3 linked regions of the Homo sapiens genome follow. The protein of the gene in region 3 purifies or fractionates together with the protein of the main gene of each other region. This does not show direct contact. Each region holds a gene or a part of one and is shown on either strand. Other genes may lie near its edges. The genes, in order: PPP2CA, RUVBL2 and OTUD5.

Evidence for each region.
Region 1: the proteins of OTUD5 (region 3) and PPP2CA purify together in Homo sapiens (affinity purification with mass spectrometry, with the first as the bait; 3 studies listed by BioGRID). This does not show direct contact.
Region 2: the proteins of OTUD5 (region 3) and RUVBL2 purify together in Homo sapiens (affinity purification with mass spectrometry, with the first as the bait; 3 studies listed by BioGRID). This does not show direct contact.

The regions. Positions count from the first base shown.
Region 1 is NC_000005.10:134,202,074-134,205,726, reverse strand, and holds part of PPP2CA (serine/threonine-protein phosphatase 2A catalytic subunit alpha isoform), read left to right. Parts: intron 1-3,653. UniProt on the Homo sapiens protein: Catalytic subunit of protein phosphatase 2A (PP2A), a serine/threonine phosphatase involved in the regulation of a wide variety of enzymes, signal transduction pathways, and cellular events.
Region 2 is NC_000019.10:49,010,846-49,013,790, forward strand, and holds part of RUVBL2 (ruvB-like 2), read left to right. Parts: intron 1-153; coding exon 154-248; intron 249-346; coding exon 347-465; intron 466-2,945. UniProt on the Homo sapiens protein: Possesses single-stranded DNA-stimulated ATPase and ATP-dependent DNA helicase (5' to 3') activity; hexamerization is thought to be critical for ATP hydrolysis and adjacent subunits in the ring-like structure contribute to the ATPase activity.
Region 3 is NC_000023.11:48,947,604-48,951,256, reverse strand, and holds part of OTUD5 (OTU domain-containing protein 5), read left to right. Parts: intron 1-3,653. UniProt on the Homo sapiens protein: Deubiquitinating enzyme that functions as a negative regulator of the innate immune system. Has peptidase activity towards 'Lys-48'- and 'Lys-63'-linked polyubiquitin chains. Can also cleave 'Lys-11'-linked ubiquitin chains (in vitro).

The sequences.
Region 1 (3,653 bases), on a different chromosome or scaffold from region 3:
AAAGGAGGAGAATGAATGCCTCAGTCAGATTGTTTGAAAAAATAGGCTGGGCGTGATGGCTTATGCCTGTAATCCCAGCACTTTGGGACGCTGAGGTAGGCAGATCACCTGAGGTCAGGAGTTCGAGACCAGCCTGGAGAACATGGTGAAGCCCCATCTCTACTAAAAGTACAAAAAACTAGCCGGGGGTGGTGGCGGGTGCCTGTAATCCCAGCTACTCTGGAGCCTGAGGCAGGAGAATTGCTTGAACCTGGGAGGCGGAGGTTGCAGTGAGCTGAGATTGCGCCACTACACGCCAGCCTGGACAACAGAGCGAGACTGTCTCAAAAAAAAAAAAAGGAAAAGAAAAATGTTAGAGGGCTGGTCAAATAGATATTTTAGTTCAGTAAATTGGGGTATGGAGAGGTAATATAATTAGATTTGTGTTTTTAGATACTTTTGAAGTATTATAAATATATAAACATACCAAATGTCAAAATGTTTTAAATCAGCTGGTCACGGTGGCTCGTGGCTATAATCCCAGCACTTTGGGAGGACAGGACAAAGTGAGCATATTGCTTGAGTCCAAGAGTTTGTGACCAGCCTGGGCAACATAGTGAGACCTTGTCTACAAAAAAATAATAATAATTAACCGAGTGTGGTGGCACAGGCCTGTAGTCCCAGCTACTCAGGCTGAGGTGGGCAGAGTTGCCTGAGCCCAGGAGGTCGTGGCTGCAATGAGACTTGATCTTGCCACCCTACACTCTAACTTGGGGAACAATGAGACCCTGTCTCAAAAAAAAAAAAAAATATCGAGGAAGAAGTTCAAGAAAAAAAAGAATTTTTCTGAGAAATTCAAGAAAACATTTGCTGTAAATATTTAACAGAGAATATTATGTACATTACATACATTATGTATGTACATATGGTTTAGCTCAGTTGAATAGTTTCCAGCCATTAACCATGACAGTAATAATCTAGACTAGGCTGGGTGCAGTGGTTCACGCCTGTTATCTCAACACTTTGGGAGGCTGGGGAAGGCGGGAAGGATCACTTGAGTCCAGGAGTTTAAGAACAGCGTAGTCAACATAAACCCCATCTCTACAAAAAGTTAAAAAAAATAGCCAGGTGCAGTGGTGCATGCTTGTAGTCTCAGCTACTCAGGAAGCTGAGGTGGGAGGATCACTTGAACCTGGGAGGTCAAGGCTACAGTGAGCCATGATGCACCACTGCACTCCAGCCGTGTGACAGAGCAAGACCCCTGTGTCTTTAAAAAACAAAAATCTAGAATGGTAGAAATGATAACCGAAAAAAGCAAGTTCCAAAATTACATGCATTACATGCCAATTGTAGCTTTGCAAAGTGTACTGATGATGATCTGAACATGAAGCAAAAGATGGTAAAGAGCTGTTAGGGTGGCAGGCTTCCGCCTTTCCCTTTAAATAAATTGTTTGACTTTACCTTTACCCAAAAATCTTGGGGAGATTTTTTCCCCCCTAGGCAACAGACTGATTTTTATTATTAAAGAATATTCAAAATGATAAATGGCTGTCACAGACTTTCCTAATATTAGAGAAGCAGTGAGATGTGGTTTTAGCGTGAGCTGAATTTTCTTGATTAATATCTGAATTGTGTAAAGTCCTACGAAATATTTTTGGAGATCGTTATTTTCTGCATCTGTAAAATGAAGGAGTTGGACTAGATGGTGGAAGGTTTCTGCGGTGACTCCAAATACTATGAAAAGAGCTAACCTGTGCTAAAAACCCAGGATGAATCCCAGTGCTCAGAGGAATGAATGTGCTACCTTTAAGAGTATGCAAGCAGCCTGGGCAACCTAGTGAGACCCCATCTCTTCAGAAAACAATTTTAGCCAGACATGGTGACATGTGCTGTAGTCCTAGCCACTCTGGAGGCTGAGGTGGGAGGATTGCTTGAGCCTAGGAATTTCAGGCTGCGGTGAGCTACTCCACTGCATTTGAGCCTGGGCGACAGAGTGAGATCCTATCTGGGGGGAAAAAAACTTACTCATGGAGGTTAATGGGCTGAATTGTAGCCCCCAAAATTCATTTGTCTAAGTCCTAACCCACAGCACCTCAGAATGTGACTGTATTTGGACAGGTAATTAAGGTAAAGTGGGGTCACATGGTTGGACCCTAATCCAGTGTAAGTGGTATCCTTATTAGAGATTAGGACACAGATGGGGAGAAGATAAGACAGATGGAGAAGATGAGCATCCATAAATCAAGGAGAGAGGCCATCAGAAGAAACCAACTGTGCTGACACCTTGATCTTGGACTTCTGCCTCTGGAACAGTGAGGAAGTAAATTTCTGTTGTTTAAGCCACCTATTCTCTGATGCTTTGTTGTGGCAGCCTTAGCAAAAGAATACCGGGGGAAAGGATGTTTCTTTCAGTAAATGGTGCTGAAGCAAATGGATCAGAATGTATCATAGAACTAAATGTAAGAGCTAAAGCTACAAAACTTCTAGAATAAATCAGAAAATCTTTGTCAGGTTAGTTAAAGATTCTTAGATATAACAAAAGCACAGTCCATAAAAAATTGAAAAATCGGACTTTATCAAAATTAAGATTATGTTTTTTCAAAAGATGACACCAGAAAAAAAGTACTTGTATTCAGATATTTAAAAAAAAAAAACTTTTACAGCTCAATAACAAGACAGATAATTGTAAAATGGGCAAAATATTTGAATAGATATTTTACCCAAGAAGATGATACATGAGTGGTCAGTGAGCACATGAAAAGATGCTTGATATCAATTGTAATCAGGGAAATGCAAATTAAAGTAACTGAGTTACTACTTCACATCTATTAGAATGGCTGTAATCAGTAAGGTTGATAATACCAAGTGTTGGTTAATACCGGAGATTAAACTCTTCATGCATTGCTGGTGGGAATATAACATGGTCTAGCTACTTTGAAAAACAGTTTGACTGTTTCTCAAAAAGTTAAACGTTACCAGGTGATCCAACAATTATATTCTTAGGAATCTTCCTAAAAGAAATGAAAGCATATGTCCACAGAAAAACTTCCATGTATATGATTATAGCAACATTATTCATAGTAGCCAAAAACCTCAGTAACATAATTGCCAGTTCATCTTAACTGTGAATAGAGAAACAAAAAATGGTATAGCCATACAGTGAAGGACTGTGCAACTATGAAAAGGAACAAACCACTGATCTATGCCAGAACATGGGTGAGCCTCAAAAATATTCTAAGTGATATTTAGCCAAAAGACTACATTTTGTATTCCATTTATATGACATTTCTAGAAAAGACAAACTCAAGACAGTAAATCAGTGGTTGCCAGGAGCTGGAGTGGGAGTGGAGAGTGACTGCAGGAGGGATCTTTTTGGGATAATGGAAAGGTTCTAAAACTGGATTGTGGTGATTGTTGCATAACTATAAATTTGTGAAAAATTACTGAACCGTAAAGTAATTTATGGGGTTTTAATAGCCCATTGATTTATGTTTGGTATAAAGTTGGTGGTAGAGGGAGTTTGATTTTAGTTGAGATGAGGTGGGCAAACACCCCATGGGCATTTAAAAATTCTGTAGAGCTGTGGTTTTGGTTCACTATGATATGAGGATGTGTGCTGTTTTTTCAACAAAATTGTAACTGCATTTTTTTCTATAGAAAGTTTCTTGAATTTT
Region 2 (2,945 bases), on a different chromosome or scaffold from region 3:
CCTCCTCTTTGGGGATGTTTCAGGCTCCTCATCCCTCCTTGCTTTGCTCCCCTTCCTCCATCCCTGGCATCATCCTTCTCTGTCTTAGCCACACTCTGGCCCTGGAACCCGCCTCCTCTCTGGCTTCCCTGATGCAACCTGTGCCTCCCATAGGTGACACAGGGGAGATCAAGTCAGAAGTCCGTGAGCAGATCAATGCCAAGGTGGCTGAGTGGCGCGAGGAGGGCAAGGCGGAGATCATCCCTGGAGTGAGGACCCAGGACATGGCCGGGGCGGGTGGTGGGGTGGAGGTGGGCCGGGGAAGTGGGGACGCGGGTGGTGACTCTCACACACACCCCAATCCAAGGTGCTGTTCATCGACGAGGTCCACATGCTGGACATCGAGAGCTTCTCCTTCCTCAACCGGGCCCTGGAGAGTGACATGGCGCCTGTCCTGATCATGGCCACCAACCGTGGCATCACGCGGTGAGCCGGCTACAGGGGCCTCTGGGGAAAACAGGATGCTCTGGGCAGTGGGTGTGGTCAGAGGGTCAATGGGAGCCTGTGTTGACACCGGGTCAGGGAGGGACGCGTGACTGCAGTGTGCGCTCTTTGCTTACAAAAGGCGGGTGGGAGGCAGCTCTGCTTCCCGAGGAAGCCCAGAGACTGTGTTCTTGCTGCCTTTCTGTCTTGCTGCTCCTTTAGCCCCCAAGGCTGCAGTCTTCAAACTGCGTGCCGAGGCACCCCAGGGTGCTGCAGGAAACTCACAGGAGTGCTGTGGGATGTTTTCTAGTCTTGAGGGAAGCACAGTGACATCTGTTAGACATAACATAAACTACGATTGTTCAGTCACTTCGACCCAGCAACTCCATTAACAGAACTCTTAGCGTTGTGTTTGGCCTAAGGATGCCAGGGACAGATTCCCATGACACAGAGGGTACCGTGCTCTGCTGAAGCCTGGGAACCTCATCTCCCAGGTGTTGCCAGCACCCTGTGCACGGGGAACTCTTAATGTTGTGTTTGGCCTGAGGATGCCGGGGACAGATTCCTGTGACACAGAGGGTACTGTGCTGTGCTGAAGCCTGGGAACCTCGTCTCCCAGGTGTTGCCAGCACCCTGTGTAGCTGGGATTACGGGCACCTGCCACCATGCCCGCTGGCTGTCTTCTCCACCTCGCCACATTTTGGCCCGCAGGAAGCAGGGGGATGTGGAGGGCAGGCAGCCCCCATAGGCTGTGATCCACAGGCTGCACCCCAACCTTGCACCCCCATTCCATTGCCCGGCACTGCTTGGGCTCAGTGCTGTACCTGGTGGCAAAGAAGGCTGGGTACTGTCAGCTCCAGCCCTGCAGCCTTGGGCCCAGCTGAAACTGGGCGGTTGGGATGGGCATCACAAAAGGGAAGAAGCGGGCACCCTACAGAGGATGCTGGGCCGCTGGGCCTGGCTCTGTGTTTGGCTCTTTTAACTCCTTGGATCCGCAGAAGAAGCTCAGAAGGTAGATATCACCTCAGCCCCATTTTATAGGGCAGGACAGTGAGGCCCAGTGACTTGCCCAGGTCACAAGTCTAGAAGGTAGCAGGGCCGTAATTTGGTCTCTGGATGGCTGGACACTGGAAGAGACCCCCAGGGCTGATGGTGTTTTCACAGAAACTGCAGGTCAGGGCCTGGGGACTGCCCAGGGGCACCTCCTGTGGGAGGCAGCAGCTACGGGCAGCCCTGATTGTTCGTAGACTCTGTATCTGAGAATCTCGCTTGCTAAGATTTATTTGTAATCCCCAAATAAATATCTGCCCTGCTTTCGGCAACAAATTCAAGTCACCTGACACCCACTTTCCCAGCTGAGTGTGAACGAGGCAACACTGCCTGCTCCCTTAGCGCTCATGCTGTAAATAAGTGTCCTTGTTGTATTCTATTTAGTGCTACGTTTGTCACTTTTGTTCTTTGAGACAGGGTCTTGCTCTGTCGCCCAGGCTGGAGTGCAGAGGCACGATCATGGCACACTGCAGCCTCAGTGCCCACCACACACACACACACACACACACACACACACACACACACACCACCCCTGGGACTCAATCAGTCCTCTGGCCTCAGCCTCCTCATCAGCTGGGACCACGGGCATGCACCACTATGCCTAGCTAATTTCTGTTTTTGTTTTGAGACGGAGTCTAGCTCTGTCACCAGGCTGGAGTGCAGTGGCACGATCTCGGCTCACTGCAACCTCTGCCTTCTGGGTTCAAGCAGTTTTCCTGCCTCAGCCTCCTGAGTAGCTGGGATTATGGGCACCCGCCACCATGCCCAGCTAATTTTGGTATTTTTAGTAGAGACAGGGTTTCACCATATTGGCCAGGCTGGTCTCGAACTCCTGACCTCGTGATCTGCCCACCTCAGCCTCCCAAAGTGTTGAGATTACAGGGGTGAGTCACCGCGTCCGGCCTAATTTTTTTTTTTTTTTTGTAGAGATGGTGTTTTGCCATGTTGCCCAGGCTGGTCTCAAACTCCTGGGCTCAAGCAATCCACCCGCCTCAGCCTCCCAAAGTGTTGTCACTTTTTTTGTGCCTTTTTTTTTTAAACTTTTTGGGGCCATTTGTTGGTGATATTGCCATTTAAAGTGTCCCCTGTGCACAGTGTTGAAGTGCTGTCTAGTATCCTAAGTGCAAGGAGGCTGTGAAGCCTGACGGAGAAAATGCCATGTTACAGACGCTTCGCTGAGCCCAAGTTAGAATGCTGTTGACACGAGCTCCATGTTAGAGAATAAACAGTGATGTTACATAACAAACACATGGAAATAGAAACACACATACATGAGGCCAGGCGCGGTAGCTCACACCTGTAATCCCAGCACTTTGGGAGGCCGAGGTGGGTGGATCACGAGGTCAAGAGAATGAGACCGTCCCGGCCAACATGGTGAAACCCTGTCTGTATTAAAAATAGAAAAAACTAGCTGGGCGTGATGGCGTGCGCCT
Region 3 (3,653 bases):
GCTGGGACAGAGCTGTGAGTCACAGAATGCTAAACACCTTTTGACCATAGGCTCTGGGAAGACATCTGTCCATGAACTGCCACTGCTGCTGCCATCTTTTGCCCCCCCACCCCACCCCCACTTCAGTGGCAGCTCATCCATCCATAGGCAGGGTCAGTAGTTTCCCAGGGTGAGAAGGGAGATTCCAGGCCCCTGCTGCCTTAATTCTAACCTCCCACCCTGGAGGATGGTAGGCAGGTGGACCTTGCAGAGCGGGATCCATGCCATATTGTCTCACACCTGTGAGGCACTAGGGAACAGACACCAAGGAGTGCTACCAAGGGGGGTGTGTTAGTTTCCTGTGGCTGTTGTGACAAATGTTACCACAGACTGGGTGGTTTAAAACAACAGAAGTTGGCCGGGTGCGGTGGCTCACCCCTGTAATCCCAGCACTTTGGGAGGCCGAGGCGGGTGGATCACGAGGTCAGGAGTTCAAGACCAGCCTGGCCAAGATAGTAAAACCCCATCTCTACTAAAAATATAAAAATTAGCTGGGTGTGGTGGTGGGTGCCTGTAATCCCAGCTACTCGGGAGGCTGAGGCAGAGAATTGCTTGAACCCAGGAGACGGATTGGAGGTTGCAGTGAGGTGGGGGTTGCAGTAAGCTGAGATTGCGCCACTGCACTCCAGCCTGGGTGACAGAGCGAGACTCCATCTCAAAAAAAAAAAAAAAAAAAAAAAGAGAGAGAGAAGTTTATTCTGTCACAATTCTGGAGGCCAGAAGTCCACAATCAGTTTCACTGCATCCAAATCAAAGTGTTGGCAGGGCCACACTCCTTCTGGAAGCTCTCAGGGAGAATTTAGACCTTCTCTAGCCTCTCGTGGCTGCCAACATTCCTTGGTTTATGACTGCATCATTCTAATCTCTGCCTCCATCTTCACCATCGCCTTCTCTGTATATGTGGTTTCCTTTTCTGTCTGTATCAAATTTCCCTCTGTCTCTCTTTTATAAGGACACTTGTGATTGCATTTAGGTCCTACCTGATACTCTAAGATAACCCCCCATCTCCAGATTTAATAATGTAAGTTAATTACATCTGCAAACACTTTTTTTCTTTTCTCTTCTCTTTTTTTTTTTTTTTTTGAGGTGGAATCTCACTCTGTCACCCAGGCGCAGTCTCGGCTCACCGCAACCTCCGCCTCCTGGGTTCAAGCTATTCTCCTGCCTCACCCTCCTGAGTAGCTGGGATTGCAGGCGCCCACCACCACACCTGGCTAATTTTTGTATTTTTAGTAGAGATGGGGTTTTGCCATGTTGGCCAGGCTGGTTTCAAACTCCTGACCTTAGTTGATCCACCCGCCTCGGCCTCCCAAAGTGCTGGGATTACAGGCATGAGCCACTGTGCCCGGGCTTTTCTTTTCTTTTCAGACAGTGCTGGCCTCTGTCACCCAGGCTGGAGTGCAGTGGCGTAATCTTGGCTCACTGCACCCTCCACTTCCTGGACTCAAGTGATCCTCCAGCCTCAGCCTCCTGAGTAGCTGGGACCACAGGTGCGAGCCACCATGCCCGGTTAATTTTTGGTGTTTATTTATTTGTTTTTGAGATGGAGTCTCGCTGTGTCACCCAGGCTGGAGTGCAGTGGTGCTATCTCGGCTCACTGCAACCTTCGCCTCCCAGGTTCCAGCGATTCTCCTGCCTCAGCCTCCTGAGTAGTTGGGATTACAGGCGCCTGCTACCATGACCAGCTAATTTTTGTATTTTTAGTAGAGATAGGGTTTCACCATGTTGGCCAGGCTGGTCTCGAACTCCTGACCTCAGGTGATCCACCCGCCTCGGCCTCCCAGAGTGCCGCGATTACAGGCGTGAATCACCGTACCTGGCCTGTATTTTTTGTAGAGATGAGATTTCACCATGTTGCCCAGGCTAGTCTTGAACTCTTGAGCTCAAAGCGATCTGCCTGCCTTAGCCTCCCAAAGTGCTGGGATTGCAGGCATGAGCCACGACGCCTGGCCCTACCTTTTTCATTATAAGGTAACATTTACAAGTTCCAGGGGGGTTAGGGTTTGATATCTTTGCGTGGCTATTAATCAGCCTACTAGAGAGGCTTTTTTCCCTCCTGGGGAAGGGAAGGGAACTCATTAAGTGGTCTCTTACTGGGCAAAGCCCTGTAATATTTGAGTCTGCCCAGCATCCCTATTATTGGGAGGCTTGGTATCCCCATTCACAGATTGGAAAACTGTGGCTCAGAGCAGTTCATCATCACATGGCTAATAATTGGTGGAGCTAGATTGGAACCTAAGTCAGTTGGGTTCCACAGCCTGCTCCAACTTCACTTGGGCCCTTAGACCACTAGGTTACAGAATCTTGCCTCAGCTCCTGGGATCCTCTGGTGTTAGGGAGCTTTACTCAGCCTTTTTGTGGAGGCTCAAAGATATGGAGGGATTTTCCCATAGGCTCAGCGATGAGTTTGCAAGGTTCACAATCTCCTCAGGCCAGGGCATTGTTGGAGCTTAAACTTATCTATGGCTGAGCTATCCCCTACCCCCCACCCCTACTAGCCCTTCCTGAGCAACATTTTCTCCCCAAAAGGAGAAAGAGAAGGGCCAGAGCCCAAACTCCTCAGGCTGCTGATGACAAAGCCAGTGGGTGGCTAGCAGTCCAGCCTCTAGATCCAAGCCTGGATGCCAGTTTGACTGCCCCAGGACCCAAACCCTGCAGTGCGAGGGGCCTATTCAGGTCTCTTTCATGTTTAGAGACAAACCAGGATATTCTGTGGATGGGCTGCAAGGTATGTCCTCCATGCTGTGGCTCGTGGGGGCCTTCCCTGTTGCCTCTACACTAGGCTTTGCTGGTATCCAAACTCCAGCTCCTTTCTCTTTCTGCCTTTGTTTTTTTGTTTTTTGTTTTGTTTTTGTTTTTGTTTTTGAGACATAGTCTTGCTCTGTTGCCCAGGCTGGCTGGGGTGCAATGGTGCCATCTCGGCTCACTGCAACCTCCACCTCCCGAGTTCAAGCGATTCTCCTGTCTCAGCCTCCCAAGTAACTGGGATTACAGGCACACGCCACCACGCCCTGCTAATTTTTTGTATTTTCAGTAGAGACAAGGCTTCGCCATGTCGGCCAGGCTGGTCTTAAACTCCTAACCTCAGATGATCCTTCCGCCTTGGCCTCCCAAAGTGCTGGGATTACAGGCGTGAGCCACCGTGTCTGGCCTCCTTTCTGCCTTTGTAAAGTGAGGGTAATGTTTCCTGCCACCTGGGCTGTGGTCAGGAAAATTAAACGAGGTCACCCTTTGCATCTGGCATGGGGCAGGTATTCAGTTAATATGAGTTCATCTTTCTTCCTGGTCCTCCCTGCTTACCTGCCTAGTACTACCCAGAACTTTAGCTCTACTGAATTCATTGCTGGGCTCCAGGCATTCCTGGTACTTCGTGGCAGAAGTGACTTCATTTCTCATCCAGTTAACAAGCATTTTTGGAGGTCTTGGTGTTTTAATCCTTTGGTCAGGTGGCACCTCCTCTCAGGTGCTAGCCTTAATGACTGTGTTTCTTTTTTTCTTTTTTTTTTTTTTCCTTGAGACAGAGTTTTGCTCTTATTGCCCAGGCTGGAGTGCAATGGTGCGATCTTGGCTCACCACAACCTCCGCCTCCCGGGTTCAAGCGATTCTCCTGCCTC